2 separate regions of the Homo sapiens genome follow, and region 2 is linked to region 1. A link means that fine-mapping ties the variant in region 1 to the expression of a gene that starts in the linked region. Tissue or cell type: vagina. Region 1 holds a variant in brackets; the other region holds the start of a gene. All regions are shown on one strand. Distances are from middle to middle.

The links. PIP is the estimated chance that this variant, and not a neighbour inherited with it, causes the effect.
Region 2: PPP3CA starts here. The variant in region 1 is fine-mapped to the expression of PPP3CA in vagina (GTEx, PIP 0.90).

Annotation. Positions count from the first base shown.
Region 1 is chr4:100,595,522-100,603,629 of GRCh38, forward strand. No RefSeq gene overlaps it. Among named protein-coding and RNA genes, the nearest start is that of LINC01216, 76 kb to the right of the region's middle. The variant G/C (reference allele first, on the strand shown) is at 4,621.
Region 2 is chr4:101,344,272-101,352,379 of GRCh38, forward strand. It overlaps PPP3CA (protein phosphatase 3 catalytic subunit alpha), which reads right to left and starts at 3,255. Exons shown (of 14, transcript NM_000944.5): 1 at 2,468-3,255. The coding sequence starts at 2,525. It overlaps PPP3CA-DT (PPP3CA divergent transcript), which reads left to right and starts at 3,506. Exons shown (of 2, transcript NR_033874.1): 1 at 3,506-3,738; 2 at 4,053-4,612. RefSeq lists silencers at 1,641-2,030, 2,051-2,410, 2,881-3,490.

The sequences.
Region 1 (8,108 bases):
TTACTCCTGCTGAATGCTCAACCTGCTGGCAGCAGAGACCAAGATTGAGCACTGTGGTTGCACTCCTCAGGGAGTCCAGTTAGCCATTTGGTAACAGATCAATTTTGTGTCTTTTCACTTTTAAAAGGGCAGTAATACATTCTTATAGAAATTATTTTATACAACTCCTGTGGGGTTGGGATACTAACTTCTGGAATGCACAATTATCTACCGAGCCACCTTACTTGAAAGAAAACTTTTGCCAATGCAAAATAAGTTACACCAAATTAGAGGTTGCAGCCACCATCTGGCCTTTTTTAAGGCAAAGACAGGAGTTACTATACTAGTGGGAGTAATCAAGCCCAATCACCATGAAGAAGCTAGGGTGGTTGCTACACATTGGACTTAGGGATGAGTATCTAGAATTCAAGGGATTAACTGTGTTGTCTCTTGGGACTCCTACATCAGTTGAAAACTATAAATGGGCAGTTGTAACAATAACAGCTTGACAAGGGCAAGACAACTATGGGCTGAGACCTCTTGGGGATGAAGATCTGGGTTTTCCCACTAGGCTGGCAGTCCACCAAGCAAGAATGTTAGCTGAGGATGAAAGAAATCTAAAGAGGGAGACAGTGGAGAAAGATGATGAGTATCACTTACAGACCAGGAACCAACTGCAACAGTGGGTACCAGAGCTTGCTTTGCTGACCCTTTTAAAGGCTTTTTTTGAAGGTTGAAATGTTGATAAATTAGATTTGTACATTACATCCCAGGGAGAAATGAGAGCATCTTTACCTTAGGAAAGACATGGATATATGTCATTAGAAGAATGAATGGATCTGAAAGGCAGTTTTTGTTTATGTGACACCCAAATTCATGCACTTGCTTTGCTTTTGGGCCAGAGTGAGCATTAGCAGCTGTTTACATCAGTTCCATGGTCCTGCAGCCAGATTTCCACTTGCTGCCACCATCTTCACTACAGACCTATAGCCTGCCTTGCAGATTACTCCTAGTTACTCCTATTGTTCACATGAATTCTCCAACAGTTCCTACATCACATCATGCCATGCACCTTTATCTCATATTCTGGCACTGCCCTGGTGCCACTGAGGTATGAGTTACCCCAAGGTTCACTTAGCATTTATGCACATGCAACCCAAGTGCTGGGATTATCAGGCGTGAGCCACTGCGCCCAGCCAGTCCTTTGTTTCTTTAAAACATTTTTAATTGCAATGTTTTGTTTTTCAATGAGTGCCTTGTGGAGTTTTTGTGGCATTTTAAAATTTTGGAATATGAGTTTATTGTTACAGTAATGCATTGCTAATATCTTCTGGTGCGCAGCTTGTCTTTTACTCTCTTTAAGGCAACTTTTAGTGAACAGAAGCACTTGATATTAATGAAGTCCAATTTACCAATTATTTTAATTGTTAGGATTTTGTGTTCCATCTAAAGCATCTTTGCCAACTCTAAGGTGAAGAATATCATCTCCTAAATTTTCTTTTAGATGTCTTATTTATTGCATTTCGTTTGAGGTAAAGCATTCATTTCAATTTTTTTAATACACTGGAAGGTAGGGGAACAGAGAGCTTCTTGGATCATGTTATTCGATGTGTTACATCAGTTTGAGAAATTCTGAGTCAGAGTTTCTTTAAAAACTCACTCTCTTCCATTTTCTCTCTCCAATTATACATGTTAGATTTTATCACATGCCGAATGTTTCCTACTTATACTGCTTCCTGTATTTTTAATGTATTTTTCTTCTCTATGGATCATTTTGAAGACTTTGCAAGGAGTTTCGCAAGAAACTGCCAAACCATCTTCCAAAGTAGCTGTACCATTTTGATTCCCACCAGCAGTGAATGGGAGTTTCTGTTCCTCCACATTCTCCGCAATAGTGTTTTGGATTGGGCTATTCTAATAGGTGTGGAGTGGTAGCTCATTCTTGCTTTAATTTGCAATTCCCTAGTGACATGTGATGTTGAACATCTTTTCATATGCTGATTTGTCATCTGTATATCTTCTTTGGTGGGGCGTCTGTTCAGGTCTTTACCATTTTTTTGCATTATTAATTTTCTTCTTGTTAAATTTTCAGAGTTCTTTGTATGTTTTGGACAAAAATCTTTTATTACATATCTTTTGCAAATATTTCCTCCCAGTCTATGGCTTGCCATCATTTTCTTGGCATTTTAATCATTTTTAAGCCTATAGTTCAGTTGCATTAAATCCATTCATATTATTGTGCCACCATCACACCAGAGCTTTTTCACTTTTCCAAACTGAAACTCTGTATTCATTCAAAAATAACTCTCCATTTCTTCCCACTGGCCCACGGCAACCACCATTCTATTTTCTGTCTTTATAAATTTGGCTATTCTAGGTACCTCCTATAAGTGGAATCAGATATTTGCCCTATAGTGACTGGCTTATTTCACTTAGCATAGTATCTTCAAGGTATATTCATGTTGTAGCATGTGTCAGAATTTCCCTCCTCTTTAAGGATAAATAATATTTCATTGCAAGTTTGTACCATATTTTTTATCTTTTTATCCACCTATGGACACTTGCATTGCTTCCATCTTTTGGCTGTTATGAATGATGCTTCTATGAACATAGGTGTATAAATATCTGTTCGAGTCCCTGTTCAATTAACTTTATAAAATAATTTTTGATAAGTGACAACTATGTTATATTTTATTCTTTTTCCAAATTGTTCATTCTCAAGTTAAATTCACATTGTAACCATTTACATATTTAGGTTTTATTTCATTTCTCTATACTTGCCAATGTTTACCCTTACTATGTTATCATTATGAAAAATTTAAATGTTAACAAAAATAATGTAAAACTATTATATTTTGCAAAGGTGCTACATTGTAGCACCTTTTTGTGAACTACTTCATTTTGCTCTTACAGCAATTCCATTTGGAGTTTATAATTTTTACTTTATGTATCATCTTTCTTTAATTCTCTTGCTTAGAAGAAACAACTACTCATTGGTCAAATGATGAGCAACATATGTTGCAACAAATTTCAAAGCCATTCTTGCACCATTTTAAAAATATCCTGTGAAAAAGACAATATAATCAGAGAAAGGATGAAGAGGCCTGGATGACCAGTCTGATGTTAAAGGACAGCACAGGTAGTGAGGTGGGTCTGGATAGCCAGAATGTCATTTTCAGGAAGCATTGGATTCAGGCAAAGATCTAAAGAGTTAAACAGAGCAAGACCTCAGGGACGTGTTCCATCAGCAGAATGGCATGTATAGAAAAAGACATTTAGGCAGGTCTGATAGACAATGCCTTAGCCTCTGGAAAGATTAGAGAATAAGGCAAGAACCTAGCCTCTTGGAGCTGGGATACTAGAAGGGAAACAATCAAGAAATTGGGAATAAACAATGCTCTGGTCTAAATGTTTGTGTCCTTTCCAAATTCATGTGTTGACACCTAATTTCTAATGCAATGGTATTAAAAGGTGAGGCCTTTGGGAAGTGATTAGGTCATGAAAGTGGACCCCCAACACACACACTCCATGAATGGGATTAGTCCCCTCATAAAAGAGGCCCGAGGAAGCCTGTTTTCCCCCTTCTGCCATGTCAGCACACACAGATGGCATCATCTATGAGGAACACATGCTTACTAGACACTGGAATCTACTCGTACCTTGATCTTGTACTTCCCAGCCTCTAGAACTGCAAACGATCCATTTCTATTGTTTATAAATTATCAAGGCATTTTGTTACAGCAGTCTAACAAACTAAGACCAATAACAAGATAGAGACTATTTACTTATCTGTCTCCCCTATTGGACTGTAAGTAAGCTACATGAAGGCTGGCGCAGTCTGAGTAAGGCAATAGCAAAGCTGATGAAACTTGGGGTCCTTTTATTTATCTTTTTTTATTGATTGAAGGTTGTAGAAGTGGGCTAAATCTCCAGAGGGCATTAAAATGACTTTGCAGTGACTATTAAATGACCACAGGAACAAATATTCAAGCATGTATATTCCATTACATAATTTTTGTTCAATTTGGGGGGTTCAGGGGAAGCTATAGAATTCTATGCTGCTATAGATTTTTCATGCCCTCCCTCTTCGAGATTATTTCTCTGTGCAGATGAATAAAAATCTTCTTGTATTTGACAGGAATATGCCCCCACCACTTTATATGTGCATTAAGGAAATGTTACAATTTAAATAATAGCTGTGGTTACATTATTCTCAAATATCTCTATAAGAAGGAAATGATTTATGCAATTTATCATTTATCTAATCTATTTTAAAGAATATGAATGTGCAAGATGTTTAAAAATGTAGGAGTCAAAAGTAGAGGAAAAGAGAACAGATCAAGAAAAAGGAGAATAGATTCATAGTGTAATAAGGGAATCATTTAGATTTATATTTTTTAAGTTGGTTCAAGTCAAGAAAACAAATAAGATTATCTCGTGTATAACATCCTAATATTGCATTTAATTGAGAAAAGAACAAAAGACTCAACACAGGTTACCAAAAAATGTCCATTGTCTCCAGGAGATATGTGGAAAACCCTTGGAATACAAAGGATACACTTAAAACCAACATATGAGAACTGAAACTCCATGTTGGTAAAAGAAAATAATTTTAGGTAATTTTTAAAACAGCCTCTAAGA[G/C]TTTAAGTTTAGAATCATGGTTTTGTAAAGCATTCATTAGGCATTATAGACAAATTATGTTATTGAAGAACTATTTTGAAATTGTTTTGCTTCAATATTTTTAAAAGTTAGGTCTTGCAATAGTCTGAGAAAAATGCGACTTACTTCTATAAAAATGAACACAGTCAGAAATCACGAAGTAAAATCACTTCAGACTAGTAGACAGCAACAACAACAACAAAAAACAGTTGAAGGTAGACAGAAAACATCATAGATATTTGAACAATCCTAGAAACTGCCTGGAAAATCTACTCTTAATAGGGAAAAGACTACTCTTTTGAGCATTATGCATAGATATATTGCAACTTTTTCCCCTCTCCTCTAAAAAGTAGGGAAAGATATGAGAATTTAAAAGCTGAAAGTAATTCTAAGAAACCCAATTAGCACATTTACTTTTCTTCTTATGATGAAAAAGATTAAATATTTTGCATTAAAAAGAAAGTGAAATTTTAAATTGAGAACTATCTCCACGCCTTTTGATATCAAATTGACAGAAGAGTCAAGTTGAAGCTTGAGGCATTTTAGTGTCCTAGATGAAATTTTGACCTTAAGAAAAATTTTAGGCCAGGCGCAGTGGCTCACGCCTGTAATTCCAGCACTTTGGGAGGCCGAGGCGGGTGGATCACGAGGTCAGGAGATCGAGACCATCCTGGCTAACACGGTGAAACCCCGTCTCTACTAAAAATACAAAAAATTAGCCGGGCAAGGTGGCGGGCGCCGGTAATCCCAGCTACGCGGGAGGCTGAGGCAGGAGAATGGCGTGAACCCTGAGGGGCGGAGCCTGCAGTGAGCCGAGATAGCGCCACTGCACTCCAGCCTGGGAGACAGCGAGACCCCATCTCAAAAAAAAAAAAAAAAAAAAGAAAAATTTTAGATTGACATTACAGTGTTCTGTTTGAAACCATAATTTAATTAAAAGGAGATGGTGCACAGGTAAAAATTGGTAAGAAAGACAATTTATTTCACCTACAATCTATTTCATAAAACCTCTAAATTTTTTTCAAAGTGAAATAATATAATATGTTAGTAAGTATAAGGATTTTAACATATTTTTATTATTTATTATTTAAATTTGGGGAAAGAGCTGACTTTTAACATGGTGAACCCCATCTATAGGAAATTCTGACCATTTATACCATAGAATAGTATCTTATAATCCAGGCCATATTCCTTACATACATGGAGGTGGTAGCTTAATAAAATTTCAGGTATATGTCTGGAAAAATATAGGATAGCTTCTGGAAAATGAACCCTAAATTATCAAATATATATAATTGCACATGGGCTGAAAACACATCTTCTCTCATTGACTCACTGACAGTTTGCAAAAAGTCATGAACTGTGAAAACTCTTCAGTTCTGACTCAACAGGCTGACCATGGACAAATCACATAGTCTTTTAGTCCTCTACTTCTTAACTAATAAAATGGGCATAACCACAACTGCCTCCATAGTTTTGATAGGAGAAATGAATAAGATTGTGTCGTAAACACGTTGCACAATTCCATTACAGAAAGGGTTCAGTAAATGTCAATTACCATTTTCTTTTACCATCAAAAATCTTACCATGCATTTACACAAGAGCTTTTGAACAGCAGTGATGTTAATATTTAGTTAGACAGAATCCACCATTCTGGAAGGAATATAATGATGGTTACTTGTGTGAGTCCCCTGATTCAATTTATTCTTCAAAGGGGAAAGCTAATGATTCAAAGCACATCTCAGCTTATCAACAGCAGCAGTAAGATTTCCACTGGAGCATTTCTACCCAATGATTGGAGGTCAGTTTTCTCACCAGAATCAAGACTGCTCTAAAATGGTCCATCTTCTTCAAGACTATTAGAGATATAATATTCATTTATTCATTTCCTTAATAGACCTGCTCATAAGAAGGCTGAATTCTTATTGCCTCAATAGCTTTTCATACATTGTGAGACAAGTTTTACAACATTAAAACTAAAACATGCTCTAGGTCAACACTTGCCTATAAATACTTCGTAGCTACTTATGCTTTGCTGTCAACTTAAATGTAGTTTATAAGCAACCTTGATACTTGCTCTTTTCCTTATTACACAAAGGTGAGATCCACCTAAAGACAAATTTAATGCAATATAACTCCTCTCTCTAACCCAATTTTTGTTTTTACCGTCTCCTCAAACATTTACACCATGCTTTCTGAAACCTCGTTTCAGGTCAAATTATTTTATATATTTTCATAATTTATTTTATTTTTACAATTATTTTCTGCAACACTAAACCTTAAAAACCCTGGCTCTTCCCATGAACATAGCACATTTTTCAGCCCCTTACTTTCTCATATTTTCTTACATCTCATAATTACCTTTTCTTTCATTACTGCCTATATACAATGTATGCTCCTAAATTCTACTAAAAACTATTTTTTAAGGCTGATACTTGGCTCTACCAATCTCTATCTCACCTTAGTTATTTCTACTCAACCATCTGCTGGCTATATCTATACTTTGAATTTGTTGAATTTGGCTCACAGTTTTGTTTTTCAGCCCAAACCCTACCTTCATCCTTGATATTTTCTATGTATTAAGATACAGCTTTTTTTTTTTTGGTGGGGGCGGGGAGTGGGGAGCTTTCTAGGTTTTTCATAACCTGGTCATAACACAGGCTTCCTTTTCTTTTCTTTCCTTTTCTTTTCTTTTTTGAGATGGAGTTTCACTCTCGTTGCCCAGGCTGGAGTGCAATGGCACGATCTCAGCTCACCGCAACCTCCGCCTCCCAGGTTCAAGCAATTCTCCTGCCTCAGCCTCCCAAGTAGCTAGGATCACAGGCATGCATCACCACACCCAGCTAATTTTGTATTTTTAGTAGAGACCCGGTTTCTCCATGTTGGTCAGGCTGGTCTCGAACTCCCAACCTCAGGTGATCTGCCCACGTTGGCCTCCCAAAGTGCTAGGATTACAGGCGTGAGCCACCACGCCCAGCCAGAGGCTTCATTTTCTTAGCGGCAGTTCTGCCATTTGATTCATTGTCTCTATGCATCCTGACTTCCTCTCCTTTTCCAGGCACATAACCACCCCCATAGCTTTCATCTTTTAGCTTGCCTAAAACATAGTATCTTAGCCTGAAACCCAAATCTTTAATAGAGATAAGTTATTCAACTCCAAACAGGAAACACATAATCAAATCGCAGAAGGGTTGAGGGTGGGCAGAATCAGGTAGTAAACAAGGAGTGTAGTTCTTTGAAAACAGATTGTCCTAAGGAAGAAATACAACTCAGATAAGATCAGCTACAGTGCCACTTCTCTGCTAAAGATTTTTCATTTTCCCATCTTTGTAGCATTCAGGATATGTCTACATTTCTTAGAGTAAAATGCAAAGCCCTTTGTTATCTGGCCACCGCTTCTCTCTCCAGCTGTGTCTCTCCTCCATTCCACCTTCATTTTTCTCTTCAGTAATATTAAATATCTTTTGGAT
Region 2 (8,108 bases), 750 kb after region 1:
AGGGGAAATATTATTTCACAGAAAGCTAATAATCAAAATAGATTATCTCAAATAACTAATAATAAAAATCTTATGTATGACAAAAGGTTGAATCCAACCTTGTATAATGCCTTTCATGCCAATAATATTCTACAAGAAAACAGGATAAACAATAACAGTGTATCCACCTTAAAATCAGGATTCATCAACAAAACTTCTATAAACAAAATTTCACATTTCACATCTCACATCAGGATCTCTATCAAAACAAATGCAAAATTAACTTTTCCTATTTTGAGTCTACTATCCACATAGTATGTGAATAAAATTTTTTAAATTATGGGTGAGTGTGTGTACCTAAAATGAAAAGTCATTTATAATGGTACAGTATTGAAAAAAAGCAAGGCAAAGTAGCCTTGGAATGGTTGAGTGGGCTCTTCCATTTTAAGCAGTAGAGAAACTAAGCCAGAAAGTATAAACATTTATTTTTACATGTTCACCTGATGACTTTACACCTACATTAAGAATCCACATCCTATGATTTAAAACAGGGAATGTGACCTTATGTGTGCACAAGTGTTTTTTTAATTGCCAACACGTTCACTAGTATCATTTGAATTATAAGCTTTACATTGTTTTGATCTTAACCTAGATTGGAGCTACATCTAAACTTCACACATTAAGGAGATAATTGTCATTCTCTGATATTTCTGCAAAGGGTCTCAATTTTTGAAAATGTCAACAGAAGCCTTTCATGCAAAACACAGCTCTCTCAAATAAATGTGAATGGACTGTTTCCATGAAAATCCATGCCTGCAGGAAAAATAAAATAGCTGTGCATCTCTCTGCAGCCCTATTTCGAATCATTTTTGCAGAGCTATTTCCTCATTATTTTCATGGGTATATGAATCCTGCACCGAAGCTGAAGCAGGAATGATTCCAGTAAAACCAAAACAAAAGAAGATATTTTGTTCTTTCTGAAAAAAGGGAACGTAATTTCCCCCATCACCACCACCACTCACACAGAAAAATTACTTTAAAAACTGAGTAAACCTCTAAGGAGAAAGAATCATTTCTGAAACCCCAGAGGGACTTGTGTATCATGGTCTTTGGGCTGCTGGGTTACTTCACTTTTAAGTGCTCATGGTGCAAACGACTTGATTGCCTTGCACTCTAGTTGCATGCTCTGGCCACATTAGATACCATCTCTGTTCTACACACAACACACACACATTACACCAGCCAGTGCTGTTTCCAATTTCAGAGGCCCGCTCCCCGCACAGCTCATGCCCATCTCTGCTTTGCTTGGTGTCCTGACCCCCAGGAATGTGAGATACTACTTAATCCAAGTGGTTCTGCTCTGTTGCCTCAGCCTTCCAGGATTCATAGGATGGTTCCTCCCCCACTACACCTAGGAATACAAGGAGGCCGATAGATTCCCGTGCGACAGAGTGATCAACCACAGCCTGTCCCCTTCCTCACTCCGCACATCCCAGTTTCTCTTTGCCAGCAACCTCAGTGCATCCTTGCCAGGAGTTTATCATCCCGTAGGCGGCGAAGAGGAGGCAATAATAGGAATCCAACAGCCCGTTACAAAAAGGATGCCAGGGCACGGAGGAAGCAGGCGGAATGAGGTTATCACTTGGGAGGTGTGCACGAGTGGAGAACCCTTTAAGAGCAATGACAGGTCGGCGGGGGACAGCCGGGGATGGCAAGAGAGGCTGGAGAAGTGGTTTTCGTGTCTCTCCCCGGGGCGTGCGGGGGAAATCCCGGGGCGGCAACGGCTGGTGCTCTCAGGTCGTTCCCCGCCTCCCGCGCCCCCCGCGGCCACCCTCCAGCCAGCGACCGCCCCCGCCCCCGCCCCGCGCGGAAGGAAGCGCCGGGCTCCCCCCACGCTCTCCCGCTCTCTCGCGAGTCCTGTGCAGGCCCTTCCAGGGGGAGGGGGAGGGGGAGGGGGGCGCGGAGGGAATTGCTGCAATGGAGCTCCAAGACAACCCTGCCCAAGTGAGGCAGTCGGTGGAAAGCCACGGCCACATAAAAATGCCGTATTAATTTTTAAAAAGCCATCAATCACCCCTCCCTCTGCAGAAGAAAACCATAAACCCGATCCCATGCAAGCCTGTGAGCAGAGCCACCCACTTCCTATTTCTGTCACAGCAGCTACACCCTACCAGCAACCACCCCCCGGGCGCCCCCTCCCACCACCGCCACCCCCGCCGCCACCTCCCCGCGGCTCAGCCATTTGCCAACTGACGCCCCCGTCAATAAAAATGCCCCAAGTGAGGCTGGGTGGGACGCGTGGGGGAAGGGCGCCGCGGGGGCGGGGGGTTCGCGGGGTTCGCGGGTTGCACAATATCCTAGAAGGTCCGCGGCTGGAGCGGACAGAGGAGAACCTGGGGCGGGGGAGGGGAGGAAAGGCGAGGCGAGGCAAGCTGCCCTGGCGCCTGCGGCACACGGTGCACCCAGGCCACCGCGGCGCTCCGCTTACCTTTCACCACCCTGTCGGTCGTCGACAACTTGGGATCAATTGCCTTGGGCTCGGACATCTCCAGCTGCCGGAGGACAGCGACGCGCTGCTCGTCCGTCCGACTGCACACCCCGACCGGACCGGCGGGCCAGACACTCAACGCCGCCGCCGCCGCCGCCGCCGCCGCGCTGCAAACCGCTCGGCTGGAGGTCTAGGCTCTGAGCTGGCTTTAAAGTTGCTGCCTTTTCCGCGCGTCCCTCCTCCGCCGCCGCCGCCTTCACTCCTCCTCCGCCGCTGCCGCCAGCCCCGCCGACTCGCTCCGGGCTGCGCGTGTGTGGTGGTTATTTATTTATTTTCTGAGCACGCCTCCCGGTTCTTCTTTTATTCTTGGGGGAAGGGGGATGGGGAGGAGAAGCGCACACACGAGCACCCACCCCGGCACGGAGACCCAGCACCGCGGAATGGAGCCCCACGCGCGCACACACGGCCAGGATTAAGACCGATCACATGGGGAAGGCCGGGGGCGAGGGAGGAGAGGCAGGGCCGCCGATGTCAGTGCCACCAGCCGCACCTTGGCGTCCCCGGCGGCGGAGAGGCGGCCGCCGCTGCTGCCGCTGCTGCTGCCGCTGCCGCTGTTGCTGCTGCCGCTGCCCCTGCTTCTCCACACAGAGCGCCGCCGCTGGTGCCGCGGCCGCCGGAGACGTCCCGCCGCCGCGATCGCCCGCGCTCGCCTCTGCCTCCCCGCGCCGCTCCTCCACTCACCAAGGCACAGCCGCCGAGCTCGGCAGACACAGTCCCGGGCACAACCTACCCCCCTCCGCCGCCGCCGCCGCCGCCAACACCGCGCCCGCCTCCGCCTCCTCCCCTTCCTCCTCCCGGCCCCCGCCTCTTGCGCGCCTGCAGCCTCCTCCTCCCCACTGAGCCCGCCCCCGACCTCCCGCCCCGACGCCGGAGTTCCTCGCGTTCATTGGCTAGAGGGCGCATCACTCAGTGCCAGGTGGCGGCCTCCCCGCTTGTCCCGCCTCCCGCTCCTCCTCATTGTCCCCGCCCCTTGCTCTGTTTTCTTCCAGCTGCCGGACCAGCGGGCCTGCCGCCTCTACGGACCAGTCCCTGCTCAGGTGTCACTTTTGCTGGCAGGCCGAGATTAGGGCAGGAGAGTGGGCAAGGCGTCGCGGCCAGGAGGAGAAGGGCTCTACCACGCCACCCTCCTTTGGCCTCCGAACGCGGACCCCGCACACACACACCCGCGCCTCTTTGGCAAGCGTGCCTTGTCGGCTGGGTTAAGCCGCAGTGTGAGTAGCCAAGTGCAGAGGGTGTCTCCGGGTGTGTGCGTGGCCCACAAGAGGGCAAGAAGAGAGAAGGCGGGGATAGGAGGGAAGAGGGTGGGGGTGAGAGGCAGCCCTGAGAGGGCGGAGGAAGGAAGAGGCTGGGAGCTCGGCGCCCGCGGCGCAGCTGCCGTCGCTGCCGCAGCTGTCCAGGGAGGATCGCCAAAACGGCGACGAATAAACAACTTACCTTGCGGAGAAGAGCTACGACTGCGATGCGGTGTACGGTTGTTTTTGCTTTTGCGTTGGCGGCTTAGGGGCTGTTACTGTGTCCCACCCAGGCGTGCACACCGAGCGGCGGGGCGCTGTGGAACGCGGGAGCGGACTAGCGGAGGAGGATGCGGACCAAGCCCCAGCGACCCAGGGCAACTCGGAGCTACCTCGGGCAGCCCTGCGGGTCTCCGAGGAGAACCGAGGAGACGGGAGAAACATGGGAGAGGGTGGCCTTTTCCCTGTTCACACACACATGCACGCAGCCACTGGCCGGGACAGTTGACACCCATCTTCCTTCCCTGCTCCTTCCAGTCATTCTACACCCGCTTGGTGCTGCCAGTGCGGGCAGGGCCTTGGAGCCCAAAGCGGATCCCCACACTTGTCCCTACGGTCGGAAGGAAAGTAGAGGAGAGAAAGTCAGGCGCGGCAGGGCTAAGAGCAATAGTGGCCCAAATGTTCCTGGCCCGCCTGCTGCGCCACAGAGTCTGAAAAGCGGGTCTCCGTCTACCAGAAGGTGACCTCCACACAGCCCCTCTCCCCGACCAACTGCAGCACCCAAGGACTGGCAACGTGGTTGGAGCTTTTGGGGGGAATTATGAAGAAATCTGAATAAATTTCTCACCCTTCATGTTTCCTGTTTTATTTCCAAAGTCCTTCAGTATCAGGTTTTTCCTATTTCCTCAATTGGACCACGGGTCCAATAAAAGGTTTAAAATACACACACACACACACACACACACACACACACACAAAGAAAACAAAAACAAAAAAAAAAGTTTAGGGAGCTGGGAGATGAAGCCAAAAGAAATGTTTTGGAGACAAGGATTAGATTAAAGCTCAAACTTGAAAATCAATTTTGAGTAAGAGACTGATTGTGCTGCAGCGTGACTTTGATGTGGACTGCACGGAATAGAAACACACACTAGATACCTCTGTGGAGGCCTAGCAAAAGGAGCAGACGCAGGGTGTGTCCCACCAAGATAGGGAGGCTGCCACTGGCACTGAGATTCTGCTGCCCAATTTCCAACCCCAGGATACTGGGTGGCAATTAGACAATTCATTCAATAAAGATATTTTCTGTACTCCTTTTATTTATATGCCAGACTTTGTGGTGGGTAATTAGGTGGGGAGGGAGTGTATTTGAAAATTGTCCTTGCCCTCAATAAAGCCTAAAATTTTCAGAGAACATAAAATTATGAGCTCTGAGAGGTCACTGTAATCTCAGGAAGGGGTTGTTGGAAACAGCCTCCTGAGCACGGGCAGAGCTAGTTGCTAAGGCAGATTTGGGAAGTTGGTCCCTGGCCAGATGGCACACAGGGAGCGATGCCAAGACCTGTGGGTGAAGAGGGCCTGCTTCAGAAAGACCAGGAAACCATGTCCAGGGATGCTCATTTCCAAGGCCAAGACATTCTCTCCTACATATTAGAAAAAAATGAAGTTCCCACCTTTATTTGGAATAACTTTTTACTAGGTATAGGATAAACATCTTTGAACCAAGATCAGAAGGCTTAAAATGTCAGCACCATATAAAATTACATGATACAGATAGGAAATAAAGGCACACCTTTCAGGCACACCCTTTAGTCCGCTACAAGTCTAGGACACCTCCTAGCTAAGGTATGTATGGGAAGAAAAAGTTATGACTCACAATCACTTCCCAACACATTATCAACATGAACTTTTAATGCCTGTGTATGATTCCATAACTGCTGCAACACTGACACCTCTTAAACAAAATTGGATCCTGCTCTAAGGAAACAGGACGGCAGCATATTAACTAGGGACTACTTGTGTTCATACACCTGACCTCCTGAAGTAGACAGACAGATCATCTTTTTTATTCGGTTACTGTTTCAGATGTCCTACCCTCTCCTACTGCCATTCTTTTTCTGTCCTGTCCAGAGATCCCCAACCTTTTTGGCACCAGGGACTGGTTTCGCGGAAGACAATTTTCCCATGGATGGTGGTTGGGGGTGGTTTCAGGATAAAACTGTTCCACCTCAGATCGTCAAGCATTAGATTCTCATAAGGAGCGGGCAAGCTAGATCCCTTGCATGCACGGTTCACAGTAAGGTTTGCACTCCTATGGGAATCTAATGCCACTGCTGATCTGACAGGAGGTAGAGCTCAGGCAGTAATGTTTGCTCACTCTGCTGCAGATCTCCTGCTGTACAGTCCAGTTCCTAATAGGCCACAGACTGGTACTGTTCTGTGGCCCAGGGGTTGGGAACCTCCGTGTTAGACTGCCCTAGCAGTCCATAATTATATTACTGCTTGCATGAGAATACTTTATATTTGGAATTTACATTTTGAAGGGGTTACTTCAGTTCCCAGATGCTGACTTTGGCAATGTCCTGCTTATCAAGAAATAGGAGGGGGGAAAAGCTTGAAAAAAGACAACTTTTTGTCTACCAAAAAAATGTGTTTTCCCTCCCTTAGTATAATTCACTCTGGGAAGTGTCTGCCCAGAGAGGGATTCCCATTTCTAGCCTGACCCTTCTTTCCTCGAAGAAGGTCCATGTGACCAGTTCTGATCAATGGACTGTGGACTAAGATGGTTGGTCACTCTCAGGACAAGGCAGTTAAGCAGTAGATATACATTTTCTAGTCTATGGGCTCCCATCCTTAGCGGAATGCAGAGACTTCTAAGACCCAGGGCAGGCAGAACCCCAGAGACAAAGACGAGAGTCCCTTAATTACCACATAGAGGAATACTACCCAGTTACTAAGAAAATAGGCATTAGGCTTTACTCATTTATTGTGTTACTCCATTACAATGTGGAGATATGTTTGTTAGACTAGTTAATATTACCAAATTAATATACGAAAGTAATATGTTAGTTCCAAAAGTACATTCCTTAGCAAAACCTAGAATTATTGTTTTACTGTAATATAAGAGAACTACCAGAAGACTAAAAATACTCTTACTTCTTTTAATACATGAGCATCAAATCTTAATTCTCTGTTAATGAATATTCTTTGACCACACCTGTTCTGTGCCCTATGCTACATGATGCATAAAATGTAGGGAGTAAAGAAGGATTCAGAGATTTTGTTCCTTCATTCAAGGATTTAAAAGTCTTGTTATATGATCATTAGATATATATTATATTTGCAAACATTTATGTATAAGGTGCTACTTCCTCTTTCTATTGGAGAAGAAAAACTATTAGATTTATCAAAAGTAATTATGAAGATAAATATGTGGGCAAAAAAAGAAAATATTGTGGATTTGGAGTCATCTGTGCATTTAAGTGCTCCACAGAGCAAGCTTCCATTGGTGCAAATCACAGTAAATTAAGTACATTTTAGTATACTATTAAGTGCTTTATCAGATGTTTTAGTTTTAAAAATAAAATAAAATATTGTATGTTATATTCTGTTTTGAAAATAACAGGCTTTCAAAATTTTGAACTTGTATTTGGTTCTTGGATGAATTTATTATCATTTGGACATTACGGTTGAGTAGTAACTTCTGATTATGGCTGGGCATGGTGGCTTACGCCTGTAATCCCAGCACTTTGGGAGGCCGAGGCAGGTGGATCACGAGCTCAGGAGTTCGAGACCAGCCTGCCCAATATGGTGAAACCCCGTCTCTACTAAAAATACAAAAATTAACCAGGCGTGGTGGTGTGTGCCTGTAGTCCCAGCTACTCGGGAGGATGAGACAGAAGAATTGCTTGAACTCAGGAAGCAGAGATTGCATTGAGCTGCAATCATGCCACTGCACTCCAGCTTCGGTGACAGAGTGAGACTCCATCTCAAAAAAAAATAAAAATAAAAAAAAACTTCTGATTATGACTCTTCTGAGGCATTCACTTTTTTCTGAGTAGCTGATGGTAGACAGCAGTATGTCTGCTCTATCCTCACTTAAGTTAGTGGAGCACAATGCTGAGGAACCTGCAAAGTAGGACAGTCAATCCTGATAGGGCCATGAATGTATATGAGACTTTGATTTATTATCTTAAAGCTAATTCCTGTGACATTTCCTTCTCACATTTTCTAGTTCTACCCTACTTCCATAGAGGTTCTATGAAATATGCTATTCTACATAGATCTAATTTGAGGTTCAAACTAAAAGGAAGTTTTATTACCTATTTTTTTATTGCTCTTGAAATTTTGTT